Homo sapiens: one gene and its partners. The protein of the gene in region 1 interacts with the protein of each later gene in a biochemical or structural test. Each region holds a gene or a part of one and is shown on either strand. Other genes may lie near its edges.

The links.
Region 2: the proteins of SPTAN1 (region 1) and SHANK1 form a complex in vitro, tested with the Homo sapiens proteins (one study listed by BioGRID).
Region 3: of the proteins of SPTAN1 (region 1) and CAPN1, one has a biochemical effect on the other in vitro, tested with the Homo sapiens proteins (one study listed by BioGRID).

The regions. Positions count from the first base shown.
Region 1 is NC_000009.12:128,547,670-128,555,598, reverse strand, and holds the start of SPTAN1 (spectrin alpha chain, non-erythrocytic 1), read right to left. Parts: upstream 3,013-7,929; 5' UTR 2,903-3,012; exon of another isoform or gene 2,288-2,902; intron 251-2,287; exon of another isoform or gene 233-250; coding exon of another isoform or gene 200-232; intron 1-199. UniProt on the Homo sapiens protein: Fodrin, which seems to be involved in secretion, interacts with calmodulin in a calcium-dependent manner and is thus candidate for the calcium-dependent movement of the cytoskeleton at the membrane.
Region 2 is NC_000019.10:50,667,783-50,674,883, forward strand, and holds part of SHANK1 (SH3 and multiple ankyrin repeat domains protein 1), read right to left. Parts: intron 4,333-7,101; coding exon 4,236-4,332; intron 1,504-4,235; coding exon 1-1,503. UniProt on the Homo sapiens protein: Seems to be an adapter protein in the postsynaptic density (PSD) of excitatory synapses that interconnects receptors of the postsynaptic membrane including NMDA-type and metabotropic glutamate receptors via complexes with GKAP/PSD-95 and Homer, respectively, and the actin-based cytoskeleton.
Region 3 is NC_000011.10:65,177,991-65,184,960, forward strand, and holds the start of CAPN1 (calpain-1 catalytic subunit), read left to right. Parts: upstream 1-3,937; 5' UTR 3,938-4,023; intron 4,024-4,461; exon of another isoform or gene 4,462-4,551; intron 4,552-4,710; 5' UTR 4,711-4,711; coding exon 4,712-4,978; intron 4,979-5,137; coding exon 5,138-5,207; intron 5,208-5,483; coding exon 5,484-5,602; intron 5,603-6,970. UniProt on the Homo sapiens protein: Calcium-regulated non-lysosomal thiol-protease which catalyzes limited proteolysis of substrates involved in cytoskeletal remodeling and signal transduction. Proteolytically cleaves CTBP1 at 'Asn-375', 'Gly-387' and 'His-409'.

The DNA of each region.
Region 1 (7,929 bases):
ATTTACTAATACTTCTGATAATTTAACACCAAAAAACCCCAAACAAATCCTAACCAATTTGTTTAACAGAAACGTCATGCAGGCAGGGTTTTTTTCCCCCTTTCTTTGGATCATTCAACCTCTTTGACACGAATATGCCTTCACTGCAAGCCAGGCAAAACCAAAAAGGCAACCCGTTTTCTGCATGCTCGTCAAATACCTGGACTCTGCGTTTACGAAACGATGACAACATGATGGAGGAATGTGGAGTCTAAAGAGGGAGGGGGAAGAGCAAGATAACAAGCTTCTAAGGGCAAACGGAACAAAATCATGAAGAAAACAGATTATTTAAAAAATATGAATACAGATTAAAAATCCAATTTCAGATATTTTTTCAGTGTCTTCTCTCTGACATTCTGTATAGCGTCTAAATCCCACAAGGGATTTAAAATGTGGAAGGAGAACCAAGGTTCCCAGGTCTTGGCAGTTACTTTCTAGATATGCTGCCCTGGTCAAGTCTCATTCTCCTTGGGGCCTCAATTTCCCCACTTGTTAAAGTAATAATACCGAATATACTTTTTCAAACTAAACATGCCTTCCTCCTGAGGATCCCAGGACAAGATGATTCCTAAATCCCCTTCCATTCAGCAATAAAAGAGCATGACTTCATGAAATTGCCACAAAGTAGAACTCAAGCCACAAAGATCTGACTTGGGCCTAGTTTGCCAGTACACTTACTTTACAAAATACTATTTCCTGTTCAAAATTGGTACAAGAGGAATATGCAAAAAAGGTGGAAGAGAGGTGATGGTTTGCAGCACAGCTGCTCCAGTCAAGTGGCCCCCAGTGATGAGCTATGCAGTCCTCCTCCTCCTCCGCATTCCTGGAGTCAGCATTTGCCACTAGGGCGTTGCATTCTTCTACAGTACAGCCGCAGCTGATATGCTGCAACAGATGAGTGCGTAACTAGTGGGATCCCTGCATAGCCCACGGAGGACTGATTACAAAGGCAGGCCAGCCTTGAACACACTTGTCCATTCTTAGTGTAGATTCAGCAGTGACAGGACATGGGGGACTATTCCTGAGATCCACTTTTCAGGATCTGCAGTTGACCCCCAACTTTGGATGAAGGCAGGTAAGAAAAAGCAGAAAAAATTCTAACCCAGGGAACCAAAAGACATACTTAAAACAGCTCTCCCCATGTGCACCTCTTCATCATATTGCTTGACAGGCTTACACTGCAGCCTGTGACATACCAGATTTCTCCAATTATTAGATGACTACAAAACACACTGCCAAGACCAAAGCATATCAGAGAATCAGTTACTAGGCTGATGGTTTGCCATAAGAACTGCTTCACACTTGTCCAGGATGAAGCAAAAATCCTCCTTTCCAGTCTCTCCATCAAGGTCCCTGGATAACAGTTAACACACTTTGAGGGTCCCTTTGAGTAATTATTGGCCCAGTTACTAAAAAAGGCTTATTGTTAATTTCCTGCACAGAGGCCTTTACTGCAGCACTTTTTTTTTCCTCCGCAGCACATTCAATTTGACCTTTCAAAATCTAAGACATTAGTTAGCTGCAATGAAAGGGAAAATAAACGACTAGTTAAGGAGTCGGAACCTTGACTCAATGGCTTCATATAGCTGAGTGTTCCTCCTGCTATTTCCAAGATTTTCTGTTTCCTGGCTCCAAGACACCCCCACCCTTCCATCTTTGATACATTCTGTTTTACTTAAGGCCAATTGCTATGACGACGCAATTTCTCAACACATTATGAAAATACTTCATATGGCCTCTCTCCTGTTCTTCCCGAACAGCCATGATGGTAAGTTTTTCTAAAATAACATGATGAAGACAGAACAAAGGGCTTAAATATTTTAGGATCTATTATATAAAAGAGATCTGATTAGATGTTGGAACAGTTCAAGCATCATCTCAACCCAGCTTTCTGAGCTATTTAGGCTTTTCATTTAAAACATATTCAACTTTTAACAAGGCGCTTATTTAAAATATATTTTACTCTAGTACATCAGAGACTTTTGAAAGCGATGTTCTAGGGGAAGCGTCTAATCAAATTCTCAGGGACAGCTTTCAAACAAAAGACTGTTCTATCATTCAACAGTGGTATGGTAGAATTTTTGACACTGTATCTCGACTCGAAAGACCCAGTCCCAGGAAACACACACACAAACAAGAACGCTAAGCTATTAAGTTATTTGATTTGAGCCACATACCATGCAAGCACTGCATTTACCTATTATTTACAAGCAAATCACAACTAGGAAGAAAGAAAAATGTTTATTACAAGGAAAGAAAAGGAGACGGCCAGTCTCAGACCCTTCTGCGTTCAGAGAGACGGCAGAGATTCGCCATGCAGGATGAAATTAAGGTCAGAGAGCCGTTTACGCTATGCTCGGGCTCCCCGGGCTCTTCCTCCCTCTACGGCTGGCCGGCATTGCTGGTGCGATTCGGAAGAACGAGCTGCAGAAGTCGCTCCCGGCCGAGGGAAGGGACCGGGGGCGGTGCGGGGAGCGTTCTGCAGGGAGGCGGCTGGCGAAGATCCCGACGAGGGAGCCCCCACCCACCTGCCGCAGCCGGATGGGGCAGGGCAGGGCCGCGCCGCAGCCAGGCTTGGGGGTGGTTGGGAGGGACCCGGCGGCCTCGCGCCCCCTCCCCCCGTCAGTGACATTCCAGCGGCGGCGCCGAGCCTCGGCCCGGCTGCTCCTCCGCAGCCCACGCGCCACAAAAGCAGCGGCAGCGGCTTCCCCCACTCAGCCGAATGGAGGCAGCCCCGCGGCCCGCCCGGCTCACCTGTCCGCGCGCCGGCCCCGCCCCGCCTGAAGAGCTGCCCAGCTCCCACCCGGGGGTCGGCTGCCCGGGGCCCCGCTCCCTCCCGGAGCTCCCCGGCTGCCCCTCTCACCGGCTCTCGGGGGGTGAGGGGCGTGGGTGCGTCGGGCCGAGGGGTGCTGAAGGACCGAGGAGCCTCCGCGGCCTCCGCTCCACACCGTTCACTCCGCAGCGGGTAGTGGCGGCGACGCGCGCGCCCCGCCTCTTTTATAAGCGGCTACGCGCGCTCCCGCGGCGGGCGGGCGCGAGCGCCGGGGGAAGCGCCCCGGCGCTGCGCGAGGGGTGGGGGAGCGCGCCGGCGGAGCAAAGGGGGCGGTGCTCCCGCCGGCTCGCCGCCCGACCGCCCGGCGGAAAGGGCCGAGCGATCCCGGAAGGAGCCGAAGCGACAATGCGGGGGAAGAGGTGAGCGAGGGGCGGGCCGCGGGAGGATGGGGAAATGGGGCGCGCGCAAGGGGTGAGGGGTGATGGTGCAGTGAGGTCACTGCCTACGCCCTGGCGGTAGAGACGCTCCCGCCTCACCTCCCTCCCCGCAGCTTGCGCCCCGCCACCGCCCGCCCTGCGGACAGTCGTCTGCATCGCACCACTCCGCCCTGGGAGCTCTTCCAGGACTGCGGAGAAGGGCGGGGCGGGGGTATCGCTGCAGTCTGGCTGGGGATGCTGCGCGCCCCGGCCGGAAAAACGCCCAGTCCCAAAGGGTGAGATCACCCGAGTGCGTCTCTTCCTGCTCACTTTCCCGAGGAGGAGGCTGGCGCTGGGGTCCCAAGTCAGCCTAATTCGGTGGGGGCTGGGGTCAAGAAGACGCGGATGATTTGGGGCCCCGGGTTTGAGGAGGTGGTGAGAGGAAAAGGCCAAATCCGAATCAGAAAAAAAATTAAGTCGACTAATTTGGGGCATAAAGCTGTCATTCTGGGATTTGGAGAGTTAATTTCTTATGTTCTTGGAGATTATGGGGGAGGAAACGGCAGCGGCAAAATAATAATTTCTTACATTCCTGCAACAAAAGCTTTCTCACAGGTCGCCAGTGGAATAGGCTACATTCATCCTATTTCATAAACAAGACATTAAGGTTCTTTCTGGCACAATTAATCGAACTTGCCTTGTGTACTAGGCACTATGCTAAGTATTTCGTGTTACCTTTTCATTTCTTAATCTTTGCAATAATTTTATGAGATGTTTTCCCATTTTACAAATGGGCACTCTTACATAATGCTCATGTAGGCTAAGTCTCTTGGCCCAGGTCAGGCAGCTACCAATTGGAAGAGCTAGGATTTACATCTCAGCAGTCAGAACCTTCCCTTTGCAACCGTATGTGTATTGCCTTCAAATAGGAAAGGGAGGCATTTTGATGCGGGTGGCTGCTGGGGTGCAGAAAGAGAAAAATAAGATTCTCAGAATTTCTGATACTTAAAGTCCTAGCAGTTTAAGGTCCTGGCTCTAAACTCTGTAGCCAGAAGCCCTGGATTAGGAAGCCCTTTCCCTATCCCCATTCCGGTGACAGCTGGGCCGCAGCCACTGGGAGTAACACCCAGATCATTCCTGTGCAGTCAGGCAGACGGGGAGCTCTGCAGCTTAGGAAGGCTTCAGCCTCCTGGTTACCAAGCAGCTCTCCTCTTTAAATAAATATAAAGTCATTGGACACTGCACCAGAATCTGGGCCCAGACCTGGCCCTGAGCTTCCTGGCCCTCTGCAGTTTGGCTTCTTTCCCCGTGCCTGGGACCTGCAATACGGTTTCTAAGCTGTCCTGGCTGTAGCCATGATACTGAGGAAAAATTTCCCTACCCACTCACTCCATTGGAGTGGAGAGAAAAGCAGTGACCACACCCCAGAAGCTGCTTTAGAGAATCTGTGTAGGAGAAACGTAGGAGCTGAGAGGCATTTCCTGCAATCTTCTATGTAGAGAAAACAGCGCTGAGCAACTCCTCCCTGGAGTGTGCATTTCTGAGAACAGCTGATGGTATCCGTGGCCTCTTCTCCAGCAGGTTGCAGTAAAATGTTTGATCAGATATTCAGCTCTGGGTACAAAATGGCTAACACAATTGTAGCTCCCTAAAATTTCCAAGACCTTCTGCTCCAGCAAAGAAAGCACCTTGGGACTGAGGGGCAGGAGCTGTTCAAAAGGGAGGGTTTTTCTATTAAATCACCCTGGCCCCATAGTGAACTGGGGGTTCTGCTGCTTTTGCTGGATGCAAAATGGAGACCTAAGAGAGAGCTCTGTATTGATAGAGAAACTAAAATCTTATTTGATTCTTTGTGTGATCTGAGACATGACCAAGAAACAGTATCCCCAGCGCTCTCCACCTCCCACCCACTCACCCTGCCTTCTCTGCACTTGGCACTTGAAACCAGCCATTCTTCACTGTTCTGTTGTCTGCCTACCTCACCTCCCACCAGTTTCACCATATGCCTAACACCCTAGTAGGTGTGGAAAGCTGGGGGAAAAAACAACAACAGAAAAAGCACAGGACAGTGTAACGACTTTGTAACCAATCAACTCCATGTTCTCAGTCACACCTCTCCTGGCCTCCTAAAAAGCAGAGGGTTGGACTGAATTCTCAACTCCTTTTTCTAGTTTCAGCAATCCTCAGAAGGTTTGATAGGCACCCTAAGCTTAAGCGTCTAGATAGTCCCAATACTTTTTCAGGTTGTTGAAAAGGTCAACTGTTGGAAAACACACTAATTGTGGTGATGTGTCCATATGTTCCAGCCAGGGAAAGTCACTTGCCCACTCTCCCTGGGAGAGACCCCTTCCCCTCCCCTCCCCTCCACACCCTGTCTCACCCCCTGCAAAGATAACAGGCAAGCACTTCCACTATTTTTCTTCCCTAGAAGGGAGCTGATTGGGAAGAGTCATGCTGGCAAGTGGACTGCACTTCCCATATGACATTCTGCAGTGTCAGAGCTGGCAAGAAATAACACAGCTCTTCAAATCACAGTGCCTGGATGAACCTTGAAGGCTTTATGCTAAGTGAAATACGCCAGACACATAAGGATGAATACTGTATGACCATTCCACTTATATGAGATCCCTAAAATTGTCAGATTCATAGAGACAGAAAAAACTGTTGTTACCAGGGTCTGAGGGGAGGGAGGAATGGGTTATTATTGTTTAGTGGGAAAGTTTCCGTCTGGGATGGTGAAAGAGAGTTCTGGAGAGGATGGTGGTGATGGTTGCACAACACTGTGACTGTACATAATGCCACAGAACTGTACACTTACAAATGGTTAGGCAGGGCTTGGTGGCTCACGCCTGTAATCCCAGCACTTTGGGAGGCTGAGGCGGGCGGATCACTTGCGGTCAGGAGCTTGAGACCATCCTGGCCAACATGGTGAAACCCTGCCTCTACTAAAAATACAAAAATTAATCGGGTGTGGTGGTGCACACCTGTAATCCCAGCTACTCGGGAGGCTGAGGCAGGAGAGTCGCTTGAACCCGGGAGGCGGAGGTTGCAGTGAGCCAAGATCGCGCCATTGCACTCCAGACTGGGCGACAGATTGAGACTCCGTCTCAAAAAAAAAAAAAAGGTTAAACTTTTTATGTTCTATATATTTTACTACAATCAAAAGACAAAGCAAAACACAAGCCCCTGCTTCTAAAATCAAGCACCACATTAGAGAAGCAGCCTGATAGGCTCTGGGAGTGTGGCCTTACCAGGGTTTTAAGACTCCAGGTGACAGCAGAGATGTAAACTCCTCCCTCCCCTCCCCTAATCCGACCTTGTAATCTGGCTCCGGTCATTTCACATCTGTTCCCTTGCAGGGCTGCCTGCTAGGCCTGGTCAGTCCGTGTCCCTCCTGCTTACCTTGAACCCACTACTACAGTTAGTTTCACAAATCACGTCAAACCTTCTCAACAAGTTTCAGTTGTTTCCCATTGCCTACGGAATAGGCCGAAATTTGCAGCCTCCACAATCTTGTTCCAATTTACCTTTTCACAGCATCATTCCCTACAGTTCTGCTCTACTGGTCTGAGGTTAGCCTCTTTCCAAAACATGTTATTTCTCCAACTCCATGCTTTTGTGAACAATTTTTTCCTCCAATTAGAACATCCTTTCCCAACACTCATGCCTCCTTTCTGCCTGAAAATCTTACCCATTTTGAGTATATGTAAGTAGAACCTTTCTGGAAGAGCAGTTGGCAATGTGGATCAAAATATAAAATTTGCATGCCATTTGACCCAGCAATGTTAGTTACATCTAGAAATCTGCCTTAAGCAGGACAAGATGCATTTTCATTCAGGACGGGCGTGGTGGCTCACACCTGCAATCCCAGCACTTTAGGAGGCTGAGGCAGGCAGATCACTTGAGCCCAGGAGTTTAAGACCAGCCCGGGCACCATGGCAAAACCCCATCTCTACAAAAAAATGCAAAAATTAGCCAGATGTGGTGGCTTGCGCCTGTAGTCCCAGCTACTCAGGAGGCTGTGGGAGGATCACCTAAGCGCGGGAGGTCAAGGCTGCAGTGAGCCATGACTGTGCTACTGCATTCCAGCTCAGGCAATAGAGTGAGACCTTGTCTCAAAAAAAAAAAAAAAAAAAAAAAGAATGTTAATAATTTAAAAAAATATATTAGGCATAACCTAGTCACCAAGTGAAAAATGATTAATTACGATTCATAAATTCAAGACTATATTCATGATATAATACTTATTGACTTGAGAAAATATTTGAAGTGTTACTGAATTTTAGGTTACATGAATGGTACTCAGTCCATTTAAGTAAGAATTATAGGCTGGGCGCAGTGGCTCACGCCTGTAATCCCAGCACTTTGGGATGCCAAGGAGGGTGGATCACCTGAGGTCAGGAGTTCGAGACCAGCCTGACCAACATGATGAAACCTCGTCTCTAGACTAGAATTTCAACCCCAGCTTTCCTGGGTTTCCAGCTTGCAGATGGCAGATTGTGGGACTTCTCAGTCTCCATAATCTCATGAATAAATTCCTCGTAATTAAATCTCATCATATCCCTGTCCATCCATCCGTCTCCTATTGGTCTGTTTCTCTGGGGACCCTAATACAGTGAACTTCCATAGGCCTGTCACCCAGCTCCAACAGTTATCAACATTCTGCCATTCTTGTTTGTTTTTTTGAGACTGAGTCTCGCT
Region 2 (7,101 bases), on another chromosome or scaffold:
GCGGGGTGGGCGGCGGGGCCTCGTAGCGGGGCGATGGGGGCCTGGGAGGCGGCTGGGGGGCCCCGCCGCCCTCCGAGGACTCCTTCAGCGCTCGCTCGCGGGCGGCCAGGGCCAGCCCCAGCGGGGAGGCGGGATCCAGGGCCTTGCCGGTCAGCGGGTGCACCAGGGGTCGCGGGGGCAGGAAGCTGGTGAAGGCGCTGCTGCCCCCGCCACCCCCGTAGGCTCGGCTACCGGCCCCGTAGCCGCCGTAGCCCGCGCCGCTGCCCGCAGACTCCAGTCGGAGGTAGGGCTCGGCGGAGAACATGCCCTCGTCGATGGATTTGGAGTGGCGCAGCCGCGGGCCCGGGGCCGCCCCTGTGCCCAGCCCGCCGTCCCCGCCGTCCTCGTCCCCCGCGTCGGTGGACAGGAACAGCGTGGAGCGCCGGCGCGCCTCATTCTGCCAGCCCCCCTCCCTCCGGGCCGCCCCCACCAGGGCGGCCCCGAACTGGCTCGTGAAGTCCAGCGTGGCCGGGCCGCTGGGCGAGGCGGGGGTGGGCACGGGCGAGGGGGACGGGGGCACGGGTGACATGGCCGGGGCGGGGCTGGGCGAGGAGCCGCCGCCGCCGCCGCCTCCCGTGGGCTCCGGCTGGGTGGGGGGCTCCGCCTCGGTGCTGCTGCCCTGGCTGCTGCGGCCGCTGCTACTGGTGGACGGGGCCTTGATGATGATGGTGGGGATGGGGATGGAGTTCTTCTCCGAGGGCGCGGCCACGGCGGGCGGCGGCTGCGGGGAGGCCGGGGACGTGGGCGACGGCGCGGGCGGGAGGCCGCCGCCCTTCTGGGGCTCGCCTTCCACCTTGGTCTGCTTGACCAGCGGGCCCTTGCGGCCGCGGCCCGAGCGGGCGGGCACGTACATGGCTGCGCTGGCCGCCCGCGGGGGCAGCTGGAAATAGCGTAGAGCCGGGCCCTGGGAGGAGCCGCCGCCCCCGCCCGCGCTGCCGTGGTGCGATGGGGACGGGGCCCCCGGGGTCGGGCTGGGCCCGCCGCCCCTCCAGCCTCGCAGGCTGGGCTGGGGCCCCAGAGCCAGGCGGGGTGGAGGGTCGTCGGGAGAGCCGCCTGTCTCCATCTCGGGAGGATGAGGGGGGTGGGCGTGGTGGTGGTGGGGCTGAGGGGGCGGGGCGTGGTGGTGGTGGTGGTGGGGCGGGTGGTGGTGGGCCGGGGGCAGGGGCCCACTGTGGTACAGGCTCTTCTCGCGGCTCCCCACGCGAGTGTCGGGAGGGGAGGGCCCGTCAAAGGATGCAGGGGAGGAGGCGGGGAGGGGGCCACCAGAGCCAGGGTTGAAGGGCCCTCCCCGAGGGGAGGGGGTGAGGCGCCCTGAGGAGGAGGGGACTGGAGGTGTGCTGTAGGGAGGCTCCGGTGGGGACGTGGTGGGTGGCGGGGGAATGTCCTCCGAACCAGGCACAGACAGGCTGCGGCTGAATTTCATGGCTGGGGGTGCTAGGTAAGGTCTGTCATCTTCTGCCGCACCTGGGGAGATACAGAGGCTCAAGGAGGGGGACCCTGGCGGGGAGGGTCTCCCTGCTCCACTATCCCATAGAACCGCAACAATACTAATGACAAGAATGGCACCCCGTATATGCCAGGAACTTCACGTGGACTCGCCCAGCTCTTCCCTATTTGAGGTAAACCCAAATCTGCTTCATACAGAGGTACAGGTTGTGCACTGCACAACTGCAAACCGCAAGGAAGGTGAGGAAACTGAAATTCAGCAGAACTTCCTCCCCACGCCAGGAGGGGGCGCCATTTTCTAATTCCGTTCAAAGGCTCAGTGAACGGTTTGGGGCCAGCAAAAGTGGCTGGAGCTGGGAAGGGATAGTCCCCTCGTGTTTATGCATAGATGCGTGTTTCTTTTCACGTATATGCGGGAAAGAAATGCAACCAGCACATCAAAGCTGTGATTCTACAGAGAGAACCACTTATGATGAGGCTAAAGTTTAAAAGGGATTGGATCTATAAAAAAAAAAATCAGGTAAACGATGCGAGCCAGGTGGACCCCACACTCAGTGGGAGTGTAAGACTCACACTGGTGGACTTTGAACGCCAGGAGTTGGGGAAAGCTGAATCCAATCAGGGAAAAACAACTCCAGGAGGCGTGCAGGAGTTAAGTCTTTGCTTACTTCACTGCCAAGGCTCGGTCTTTGAACCTCTTCTCACCTCTGACTACTCCCTCTCAACTAGTGACCAGCTTCATTCACTGCCTTTCTGCTGTCGACGCCCACGTTTATGCCTGGGGCCCCATCCTCCGCCCTGAGCTCTGGGCCCCTATATTCAAATACCCACACCCAGCTGGCTGTCTCACGGGCATCTCAGACTCCAAACGCTCCAACCCAAGCTCCTGATCTCCTCACCAACAGACTCCTCCCAGCCCACGGTCCCTCCCCACCACCGCAGCAAACAGCAGCTCTGTCCTTTCAGGTGCTAAGACTGAAAACCTTGCAGCCACTCTTAGCTTTCTTCCTCAAGTCACCCACATCCAATCCACCAGCAAATCCTGTTGTTTCAAAACATATCCGGAATCCAATCCCTTCTCACCCCTCCAGAGTCAACACCCTGGGCCAGCCACTATCATTTCCTATCTGGATAGCAATAGCTGTCACCTCCTCTTTGGTCCCCCGGCTTCCCAGCTCATCCCCTTCAATCTAGTCCCTTCACAGCAGCCAGAGGGTTTCTGTTAAAACCGAAGTCAGCTCATGTCCCTCCTCTGCTTAGAGCCCTGCCATTCACTCACCTCACTCAGGGCAAAGGTTCAAGTCCTCACCATGACTCCCCAGACCCTGCAGGATCGGGACCCTGTCCCCCCACTGCCCTCATGTCCAGTGCTCACTTGGCCCCTGCTACACAGGCCTCCTCCCTGTTCTGTAAACGCACCAGACTCAGCCCGACCTCAGGACCTTTGCAGAGGTAGTTCGCTCTGCCTGGAATGCCTCAACCCCAGGGAGCCTCACGATTCCCCACTTCATCTCTAGGTGTTTTTTTTTCTTTTCTTTTTTTTTGAGACAGAGTCTCGCTCTGTCGCCCAGGCTGGAGTGCAATGGTGCGATCTTTGCTCACTGCAACCTCTGCCTCTCGGGTTCAAGCTATTCTCCTGCCTCAGCCTCCTGAGTAGCTGGGATTACAGGCACATGCCACCACGCTTGGCTAATTTTTGTATTTTTAGTAGAAATGGGGTTTCATCATGTTGGTCAGGCTGGTCTTGAACTCCTGACCTTGTGATCCGCCTGCCTCGGCCTCCCAAAGTGCTGGGATTACACGTGTGAGCCACTGTGCCTGGCCCATCTATAGGTTTTAGCTCAAACCTGCACCCTGCCCCCTACCCAGCACTCCCTATCTCTCTTACCTTACTCCATTATTTTTTTTCACTCTTTTTTTTTTTTTTTTTTTTTGAGACAGAGGGTTGCTCTGTCGCCCAGGCTGGAGTGCAGTGGCACGTTCTCGGCTCACTGCAAGCTCTGCCTTCCGGGTTCACGCCATTCTCCTGCCTCAGCCTCCTGAGTAGCTGGGACTACAGGTGCCCGCCACCACACCCGGCTAATTTTTTGTATTTTTAGTAGAGATGGGATTTTACCATGTTAACCAGGATGGTCTCGATCTCCTGACCTTGTGATCTGCCTGCCTCGGCCTCCCAAAGTGCTGGGATTACAGGCGTGAGCCGCTGCGCCCGGCCCACTCTTTTTTTTGTTTTCCATAGCACGTACAACTGCTAACATACTAGATAATTTTCTTGCTTATTTTCCTTATAATCCATTATCTGTCTTCCCCTGCTATAAGGCAAGCCCATGAGGGCAGGAACCTTTAGTCTGTTTTATTCGCTGACGTATCCCCATTCTAGAACAATTCCTGGCATGTGGGGAGCGCTTGGTAAACACTTGTAAAATGAATGAATGGATGGAATCGGGTATAAGAGAAACAACCAGAAAGCTGTAGCGGGGGCTTTAGCTCACTGCATCCCCATTCTCCAGATGTAGAGCCAGAGGCCCAGAGAAGTCAAGCCACCTGCCCCAGTTCACACAGCTGGGAAGGAGGGGAGCCAGGATTCATGGCCAAGTTCACCCATTTCCAAAGCCTGAACTCTTAACCCAATTTGATGAAACTATGGTCTCTCTGGGAGCACAGAACATTTCCAAGTCTGCTTGCTTTTCCTGAACTGTCACGTTCCTGGCCTCCCCCAGCCCCCACATCTCTTCTTCTGGGTGGCATACCGATAGATTTTTGCCGGAGCATCAACCCAGGTCCTGGAGGCAGGAAAGAAGGACGCTCGTAACTTGGCTGGGCACGGTGGTGGGGATCGAAGCTCGACTTTGGAGCGGCAGTCAGAGGGGGAGAGAGAGAAAAGATAGAGAGAGATCAGTCAGCGCAGAAAGGCTTGTGGCTTCACTATACGGCTGCCCCCATTCCTTCCCTAAGCCCCTGCCGTAAGGGAGAGCAGTGTGAAGACGGTGGAAGGAGGCCGGGCAACGTGGCTCACGCCTGTAATCCCAGCACTTTGGGAGGCTGAGGCAGGAGGATCACCTGAGGTCAGGAGTTCAAGACCAGCCTGGCCAACATGGCAAAACCTCGTCTCTCTACTAAAAATACAAAAATTAGCCAGGCATGGTGGCAGGCGCCTGTAATCCCAGCTACTCGGGAGGCTGAGGCTTGAGAATCACTTGAACCCATGAGGTGGAGAGGTGGAGGCTACAGTGAGCCAAGATCACACCACTGCACTCCAGCCTGGGCGACAGAGCCAGACTCTGTCTCAAAAAAAAAAAAAAAAAAAAAAAAAGAAAAGAAGGCGAAAGGGAATTCTGCGGGAATGAAAAGCCTCAAGTCTGGGCAGGAAGGAGAAAGAAAGGAGAAGAAAGCAGATTTTCCATCGACTCTTGATCTGCTTCCTTCCTCCAGCCACTGCCCACATCCAGGTCCCCACCAGTGTTCTCCGGGATGGAGCAGCCTCTTCCCTCATCTCCCTGCTGCCATCCTTGATCCCCCACCCTGTTCCAGTCTGTTTTCCACACAAGAGTCAGAGGCATCTTTCAAAAAGCATGCTATTGCCCCTGCTTGAAATCCCATGTCAGTTAGGAGGAGATCAGAGGGGACCAAACTCCCAACTCTGGTCTACAAGACCCTCTATGGCAGGCACTGCTGGTGCCCCTGCAGCTGCCCTCCCCCTGGATGCAGCATCCCATCCCTCACCCACTGCTGGGAGGGTCACCTGCCTGCAGCCCTTAAGAATCACCCTCCTTCAGAGTCCTGGACTCGCCCAGTCCGTTATGTGTCCCTGCTTCCTGGAGCAGCCCACAGCCCACGATGGACGGATACGGAGGCCCGAGGCAGCACTAAAGCCGGGGTGCCCAGCCTGACCCCATGGGTTCCCACTCCAGCGTGAACCGTGTCTGCTTGACTTCCTTCCACAACCCCAGCCAGTCTCCCACACTCCCTGAAGGTTCCCCCGTAGCAAACCCTTGGTACAGGAATCCCCACCTCCGGCTCCCGTTCTAGGGAAGCCCACACGAAGACAGGTCCTGCAGGCGGGACCCAGCCCTGCCCCCATTTCCCACTTGCTCCCTTGGTCCACCTCCACCCCCACCTCTTCCTTCTCCTCTGTCAGCCCCAGGTCTACCCTCATTGGAGAACACCTGCGAGCCCTGGTTCTCTCGGCAACAGCTTTCCCTCTTATTGTCACAGTTCCTTTTCAGCGCGAAGTTCTCCTCGGCGAGACCTTCCCCGGCCCCCTACCCAGACTGCACTTCCCTCTGTCCCATTTTCTTCACAGCATCTCTCTTCCCCAGAAACCATCTTGTTTACTTGCTGTCTGTTTCCTCCACTAGCCTAGAAACTCCCTGAAGGCGGGGCTGATGTATCCCAGGCATCGCACCTACAGTGTCTAGGGCCCATGATGCTTTTAGGGGAAGTGTTTTCATTTCTTTTCAAAGTAGAAGTGAAAGAAAAAAAGAAAAGAGAAAATTGTACCCTGGATAATATCGGTCTTTGCAGCAACAAAGTCATAAAATTTAAACTTTTTTTTTTTTTTTTGAGACAGGGCTGGAGTGCAGTGGCGTTAACACGGCTCACTGCAGCCTTGGCCTCCCGGGCCCAAGCGATCCCAACCCCAACCTTCTGAGTAGCTGGGACTATAGGCAGGCACAATCACATCCAGTTAATTTTTAAATTTTTTTGCAGAGGCGAGTTCTTGCTATGTTGCCCAGGCTCATCTCAAATTCCTGGGCTCCAGCGATCCTCCCACTTTGGCCTCCCCAAAAGTTCTCAGATTACAGGCATGAGCCACCGTGTTGGCCTATTTTTTTTTTTTTTAATGCAGAAGGGCAAAAGTGCCTAAGGTTCATGGAAGTCATTATGAAACCTGCCTGAGGGTAGGGTAGTGACTTTATCAGTCTCCTTTCCTACTGAGTCCCCGGTCCCCGCATAGGGCCTGCTGTTCTACAAGCAAGTGTTAGATGAGTAACAGGGAGAATCAGCCAAGGTCAGGCACTTCGGGGCCCTGACTCCCCAGCTTCTGCCAGGTCACCCCATGTGTCTCCCTTCTCCATCTTTGAGACCAGAAGTGCAGAGAAAGGGAGCCCTCTCGGAATGAAGTTCGCACCTTTGGGATGAACCCTTACTTCCTGCACTTCCCACTATACCCCCTCCTGCCTCTTTCCTCCAGCCATTCACAACCATTCCCAGTTCCCTCGCTTCTCACTTCCGAGACTCTGCATGGAGCATCCTTTCCCTGGGCTCTGGGCTCTGCTTGGGAAAGCTCTGTTATCTTAGCCCTCCACCCTGGCCCGGCTACCCGCTTCCTTTAGGCCTGCAGTGCCCCCCTAGAGCAGCCACTAGCCATTCAACTGTACATTTCAGGCCAACGTGGTGGCTCATGCCTGAAATCTCAACATTAGGGAGGATCGCTTGACCCCAGGAATTTGAGACCAGCCTGGGCAGCATAGGGAGACTCTGTCTCTACAAAAATAAAAATTACAAAAATTGCTGGGCACGGTGGCTCATGCCTGTAATCCCAGCACTTCGGGAGGCCAAGGTGGGCAGATCACCTGAGGTCAGGAGTTCGAAACCAGCCTGGCCAACATGGTG
Region 3 (6,970 bases), on another chromosome or scaffold:
TTTGAATCTGTTTCTAAATTTCTCTGTCTTCTATTGATCTCTATGTGTCAGTAACCCTCTTTAATTATTACCTTTTAATGATAGATTTGTTGTGTTTTAATATCTGGTAGGATTAGTCTATACTCATTATGTCTTTTATTTTCAGAAGTTTCCTACTTGTTTAATTTGCCATATGACCTTTAAATCAGCTTTTCTAGTCCCTCCTTATCTCCCACCAGAAGACTCTTAAAATTTTTCATTGTGATACACTTAGAGATTAATTTAAGGAGAATTGACATCTATATGAAGCATCTTCATATGAAGACCAAGGTGTCAGCCCCCTTGCCTCTGCTTTTTGGTGGCTAGTGACTCCCAAATTTGTACCTCTATTTTGAGCACAAGGTCTGTTCCTCACCCCTAGGAATCTCCTCTTGGATAGGGGGATCCCAAAGATACCCCATACCCTGATCCCATACTGTCCCTCCAGCTTAGTGCATTCCCCCTTCTCTTTAATCTACTCAGGTGCTCAAGCCAGATCCAGGGTCTGAAGTTGTCTTTGGTCTCTCCTGGTGTCCAAGAGCCATATCTAACCAGTGACTAAGTTCTATTTTTTTTTTTTTTTTGAGACGGAGTTTTGCTCTTGTCGCCCAGGCTGGAGTGCAATGGTGTGATCTTGGCTCACTGCAACCTCCATCTCCTGGGTTCAAGTGATTCTCCTACCTCAGCCTCCCTAGTAGTGGGGACTACAGGAGCCCACCACCACGTCCAGCTAATTTTTGTATTTTTTAGTAGAGACAGGGTTTCGCCATATTGGCCAGGCTCGTCTCTCGAACTCCTGACCTTATGTGATCCGCCCACCTCAGCCTCCTAAAGTGCTGGGATTACAGGGGTGAGCCACTGCGCTCAGCCTGTGGTATATTTGTAATCACTGATGAACCAATATTGACACAATATTATTAATTCAAGTCCATAGTTTACATTAAGGTTCACTCTTAGTGTTGTACATTCTGCAGGTTTGGATAAATGCATGTCATGCATCCGTCATTACAGTATCATACAGAATAGTTTCGCTGTGCTAAAAATGCCCTGTGCTCCATCCCTCTCCTACCCCTCTGAATCCCTGGCAACTGCTGATCTTTTTACCATTGCTAGTTTTGCCTTTTCTAGAACGTCATATAGAGTTATTGGAATCATACAGTATGCAGCTTTTTAATACCAGCCTCTTTTACTTAGCAATATGCGTTTAAGGTTATGCTATGTCTTTTTGTAGCTTGATGGCTGATTTCTTTGTATCGCTAAATTTTAAAGAAATTGCCAAACTGTCTTCCAAAGTGGTGGTGATCATTTTACCCTCTCTTGGTGTATGACAGCTCCAGTTCTTCTATATCCTTGACAACATAACAACACTTGGTATGGTTGATCTTAACTTTTAGCCATTCTAGTAGGTGTTCTTTTAGAAGCAGTCCTTCTAGTGGCTTTAATTTGCATTTCCCTAAGAGTAATGCACTCAGTGTTTTTTAATGTGCCTATTTGCCATCCAGAGATCTTTTTGGATGAAGTGTCTGTTCAAATGTTTTGTCCATTTTTTGACAGGCGCGGTGGCTCACCCTGTAATCCCAGCACCTTGGGAGGCAGAGGCGTGCAGATCACTTGAGGTCAGGAGTTTGAGACCAGCTTGGCTAACATGGTGAAACCCTGTCTCTACTAAAAATACAAAAATTAGCCTGGTGTGGTGGCGGGCGCCTGTAATCCCAGCTACTGGGGAGGCTGAGGCAGGAGAATTGCTTGAACCCAGGAGGTGGAGGTTGCAGTGAGCCAGGATCGCGCCACTGCATTCCAACCTGGGTGATGGAGCGGGACTCCATCTCAAAAACAAAAACAAACACCAGAAAACAAACAAATGTTTTGTCCATTTTTATTGGATTTTTATTCAATTGTAAAAGTTCTTTATACAAGTCCTACATCAGATAGAATTTTTACAAATATTCGTCCTAGTCTATGGCTTATCTTTTCATTTTTAATAGTTTCGTGCATTTTGAGAAACAAAAGCGTTTTATTTTGATGAAGTTCAATTTATTGATTTCTTCTATCATTTACACTTTTTGTGTCATATTTAAGAAATCTGGCCAGGTGCCAAAGCTCACACCTGTAATCCCAGCACTTTGGGAGGCTCAGGCAGGAGGACTGCTTGAGCCCAGGAGTTCATGACCAGCCTGAGTAACACAGCAGGACCCCATTTCTACAAAAAATTTAAAAATTAGCTGTGTGTCGTGGCACGTGCCTGTAGTCTCAGCTACTCAGGAGGCTGAGGTGAGAGGATCTCTTGAGCCCAGGAGTTTAAAGTTACAGTGAGCTGTGATCAGGGCACTGCACTCCTGCCTGGTCAATGAAAGCAAGACCCTGCCTTTAGAAAAGAAAAAAGAAATCTTTTCAAACCCAATATTGTTAAGATTGTCTCCATTTTTAAAAAAAAAAGTTTTATGGTTTGGCCATTTATATTTAGGTGTGTAATCCAGTTTGAGTTAAATTTTGATGGTGTATCCTAAATAGTTATCAAATCCATCTACTTCTGCCTGCCACCTCTCTAGTTTAAACCACCCTTCTCTGTCCCTGGACACCTGCGCAGAAAGCCTAGGAGCTGGTTCCACCCATCACTCACCAGGTTAGGTATTTCAGGCAAGTCACACCCTCTCAGGCCTCAGTTTTCCTCTTTTGTTAACTGAGGGTGAAAGTGGGGTTAGATTAGATCAGCGGCTCTTAACTTTTGAGGGGTCGTGGGCCCTAGAGTCCTGGGAACGCTATGCAGTTTCCTCAGCAAAATGCTTGCATCCACAACATGCAAGACTGCAGCAGCTGCTGGGCTGGGGCTGCGAGACCAGCGAAAAGCCCTGACTTGGGGGGGTCTCGGGAGTCTCTGCAGTCTCCCCACCCACACCCCCGGCCTCCGCGCCGAATCCTGGCCCCCCAACTTCTTGCAGCCCGTGAAGCAGGATCTCAGGGTCCTGGGGGTGGGGAGAGGGGGCTGCCGTCCTGCTCGCAGCCTCTGCCGCCCTCTCCTGGGTAAGGTGACACATGGGCGCTTCCAGGTGGGTGGGCTGAGAGCCTGGGGGAGAGAACAGGGATGTCCACCTCTCTAAGTTTCCAGGTTCAAGAAACCCCAGAACGTTAGAGAAAGATGGGCTCCCACAATTGCCCAACCCCATCCCATAGGATGCACGCATGCGGAAAGTCGGGCCGAACGGGGCAGGGACTTACCCAAGGTCACGCAGCGAGCCCGGTCCCCCTGCGTTCCCCGGGGAGCGCTGAGCCGGGACGCGGCGGTGGGGTGGGGAAGGGGAGTGGCGCGGCCCTGCGGGGTGAGGCTGCCGTTTGCTGAGTGTCCGGCAGGGGTCTGCTCGCTGCCAGCCCGGCCCCTCCTCAGAGCAGCTGCCGCAGCCCGAGGTAATCTCGGCCCCGCGCCGGGGCTGGCTGGGAACGGCGGGAGCAGCTGCGGTCGCGCGGAGCGAGGGGAGCTGGGGACCGGGCGGGCCCGGGGCTGCGGGAGGCGGCGCCGCCGCACAATCGCCCCGGAATGCCCGCCAGGGCGCGCGTGGGGTGCGGCCGTCCGGCCCTGCAACTCGAGCTGCTGCCCCTGGTTAAAAATACCCCCTGCCCGGCCCTCCCCCTCCGTTCCCCGCGGTGCCCTTCCGCCGCGCCCCAGCCCCCCCATCCCCCCCCGCGCTGGCCCCTCCCCGGGGACTGCTCTGCCTTTTACTAATTTGTCCTCTCGCGGAATTGGCCCCCGGCCTGCGGAGGGAGGGGCGGGGAGACACCGTGAGTAAGAGATAGTCAGAGACCGTGCCGGAGAGATAAGGGAGAGCCGAGAGGAAGCGGGGTAGGAGCCCCAGGAGGAGGAGGAGGAGAAGGAGAGAGGGAGGGCGGAGGGCGGAGGGGCGGCGGGAGGAGGGCGGGGAGGAGCGCTCTTCCTGGTTGGGCCCTGCCCTGAGCTGCCACCGGGAAGCCAGCCTCAGGGACTGCAGCGACCCCCAAACACCCCTCCCCCAGGTAAGAAGCTGGGTAGCCGAGCCGGGATTCCTTGACCCTGGCCACTGCTCCTGGGCTGAGGGGCTGCCCCAGCACGGTCCCTTCTCGGGGGCCTCTGCGTTCCTGGAGCAGGGGTGGGGGCTGGCGGAGCGGCACAGCCCAGGCGCCTGTCCCAGCCTGGCTCACCGCTGTCCCCAGGGGCTGGGCTAGGGCCCACCAGCTCTGATATCGAGCCTGCTGCGGGGGCCTGAGGAGGGGGACCCCGACCGTCTGGGGTTTTCAGCCCACGGCAAGGGGCCGGTGCACCAGGAGCTTGGTTAGTTTGGGGAGGGGGTTGCAGGCCTGTGAACAGGATCAAAGAGGCCTTCCCTGCTGTGTCCCACCTGCCCAGTTCCTTGTGCTGTCTGGAGGCTCCGCCCTGCCCCACCTGACCTGCTGGCTCACTACAGAGCTGCAAGCCCCTGACAATGGGATCCGGGAAAGGAGAGGTGGCCGGCACGCCTGGGAACTGGGAAATCCCTTTCCTGGATTCACTGGGAGCACCGGGAGGTGGCTGAGAACCCTACTTCTGTGAGGGGAGCAGTGAGGCAGGGAAACCCTAGGTTTGGGGATGGATAAGCAGGGGCAGGAGAGCAGAGCTTGCAGGCAGGAGCCCAGGTTCTAGTCTTGGGAAGGCCTGGGTTCTGAGCAGGCCCATCTGTCCGGCAGGATGTCGGAGGAGATCATCACGCCGGTGTACTGCACTGGGGTGTCAGCCCAAGTGCAGAAGCAGCGGGCCAGGGAGCTGGGCCTGGGCCGCCATGAGAATGCCATCAAGTACCTGGGCCAGGATTATGAGCAGCTGCGGGTGCGATGCCTGCAGAGTGGGACCCTCTTCCGTGATGAGGCCTTCCCCCCGGTACCCCAGAGCCTGGGTTACAAGGACCTGGGTCCCAATTCCTCCAAGACCTATGGCATCAAGTGGAAGCGTCCCACGGTGAGAGGGGCCATCCTGGGTGGGACTCGGCTAAGCCAGATCCTGGATGAGGAGTAGGGATGGGACTCCATGTCCCTGGTGGGGAATGGGGTCTGGGGTGGCCTGGTGCCAATTTCTGGGAGGGGCTGGCCGAGGAACAGGACTCTGGGTCTCTCGTAGGAACTGCTGTCAAACCCCCAGTTCATTGTGGATGGAGCTACCCGCACAGACATCTGCCAGGGAGCACTGGGTAGGCCCCCAGGGCGTCGGGTCCCGGGTATTTTTTCCACAGTAGTTCCCCATTCCCGCTCCTTCAGGCTCTGCCCCAACCCCTCCCTCTTGCAAGCCCAGGCAGGATCTGGCTATCAGCGCTGGGGCTGGTTTGCCCAGATTCCTGGGTCTTTTCTGCAAGCTGAGGGGAGTTAAGTGGCACCCTGGCCAAGGAACCCCAGATTCTCCCTAGCACCCGCTTCCCCCCCCGGGGCAGGTTGGTAGAGCAGGCTAATGTGCATCCCTCCTGCCCCAGGGGACTGCTGGCTCTTGGCGGCCATCGCCTCCCTCACTCTCAACGACACCCTCCTGCACCGAGTGGTTCCGCACGGCCAGAGCTTCCAGAATGGCTATGCCGGCATCTTCCATTTCCAGGTGAGGGCTCCCCTGGGGAGGAGGGGCAGCAGGCACTGGGGGAGATGCGGAAGGATGACCCACAATACCTGCAGTTAGGGCCACACCCTGTGGGGCCAGCCCTCCCTCTAGCAGGTATTTGACCTCTCAGTGCCATCTCGGGTCTGTCATGTGTGAAGTGACTGGGCTGGGCAGGTATTTCGGCTGGCAGTTTTCCTAGGTGGTTGTATGTATCAGGTGGAAAGTGCTTGAAAGAACAGAAAGACTTTTGTGTTATATCCTGTGGGACAAATTCCACTCCTCCCGGAGGTCGGTCTCAGTTGCCCCATCTGAGAAAGGAGTGTTCGCTGGGGAAAACAGATCAGCACGTGTGGCCTTCTCCACGTGTCAAGCCTCCTATCCCCCAACTCCTCCTGCGCTTTGGCAAGGTCTGACTGAGCCCAGCAGAAAAGAAAGACTCGGGATTAAGTCTACGTAAACCAGCTTTTCCTGACGGTGTGCCCAGGGCCCATTTTTCAAGTCACACCAATCAATTCTCAATGAGCTGCCTTTGGGAGGGACATGCCCAGCAACCCTGGATGAGACTCTCCAGCCTTGGAGGCCCCAGCCCTGCCCGAAGGACTCTTGGGTGTTCCCTCCTTCTGCCTGGTTAGAGAGCCCCTTACCCTACTCTGTCCTTGCCCGCCTTGCGCGGGTGGAGGTGGCCCTCGGAACCCAGGGTGCGGAACCCACAGTGCGGATCCACTTTGGCCCAGCGCCACACCCACCTGCTCCAGTCTGCAGGGGCGCAGTCTCGCCCCCTTCCCTCGCTCCTCCAATCCGCTCCTCCCTGGCCTCCGATTGGCCAGTTCAGTACCCGCCACCCACACTCTCCGCAACCTGGGCTCCTAGGGCCGCCTCCACCCCGCCCCGCCCCCCGTTGTCCTGGCCCCGACCCCTCAGATGGTACCTCGAGTCCTTGGTCGCTTCTGACCCCAGACGCCTTCGGCCCCGACCCTGCCCTGGGAAACGTGGCCTTTGTGGCATCTCAGAAACAAAGCCCGTGATTGTGAGAACCAGTCCTGCCCATCTTGTGGTTGTAGGATCTGGATGCCACATTTTCACTGCTCATCCAATGACACAGGTGCCCCTAACCCCCTTGAATAGGGAGGGAAGAGCCAGGGGGCCATGGCCTAAAAGGGGGCTAGTTCCGGAAAGCCCAGGCCCCAGAGCTTTTCCACCTCTCCGTGCCTGAGGAGGAACCCTGTTTGTTCAGTGACTCCCTAAAGGCTTTGCCTGTGCTCTTGTTTAAGTCTTCCGTGAAGAAGGCACCGCTGCTCCTTTTTATGGATAGGGAAACTGAGGCTCAGAGGCGATAACTTTTCCAGGATCATGTAGCTAGTATGTCTC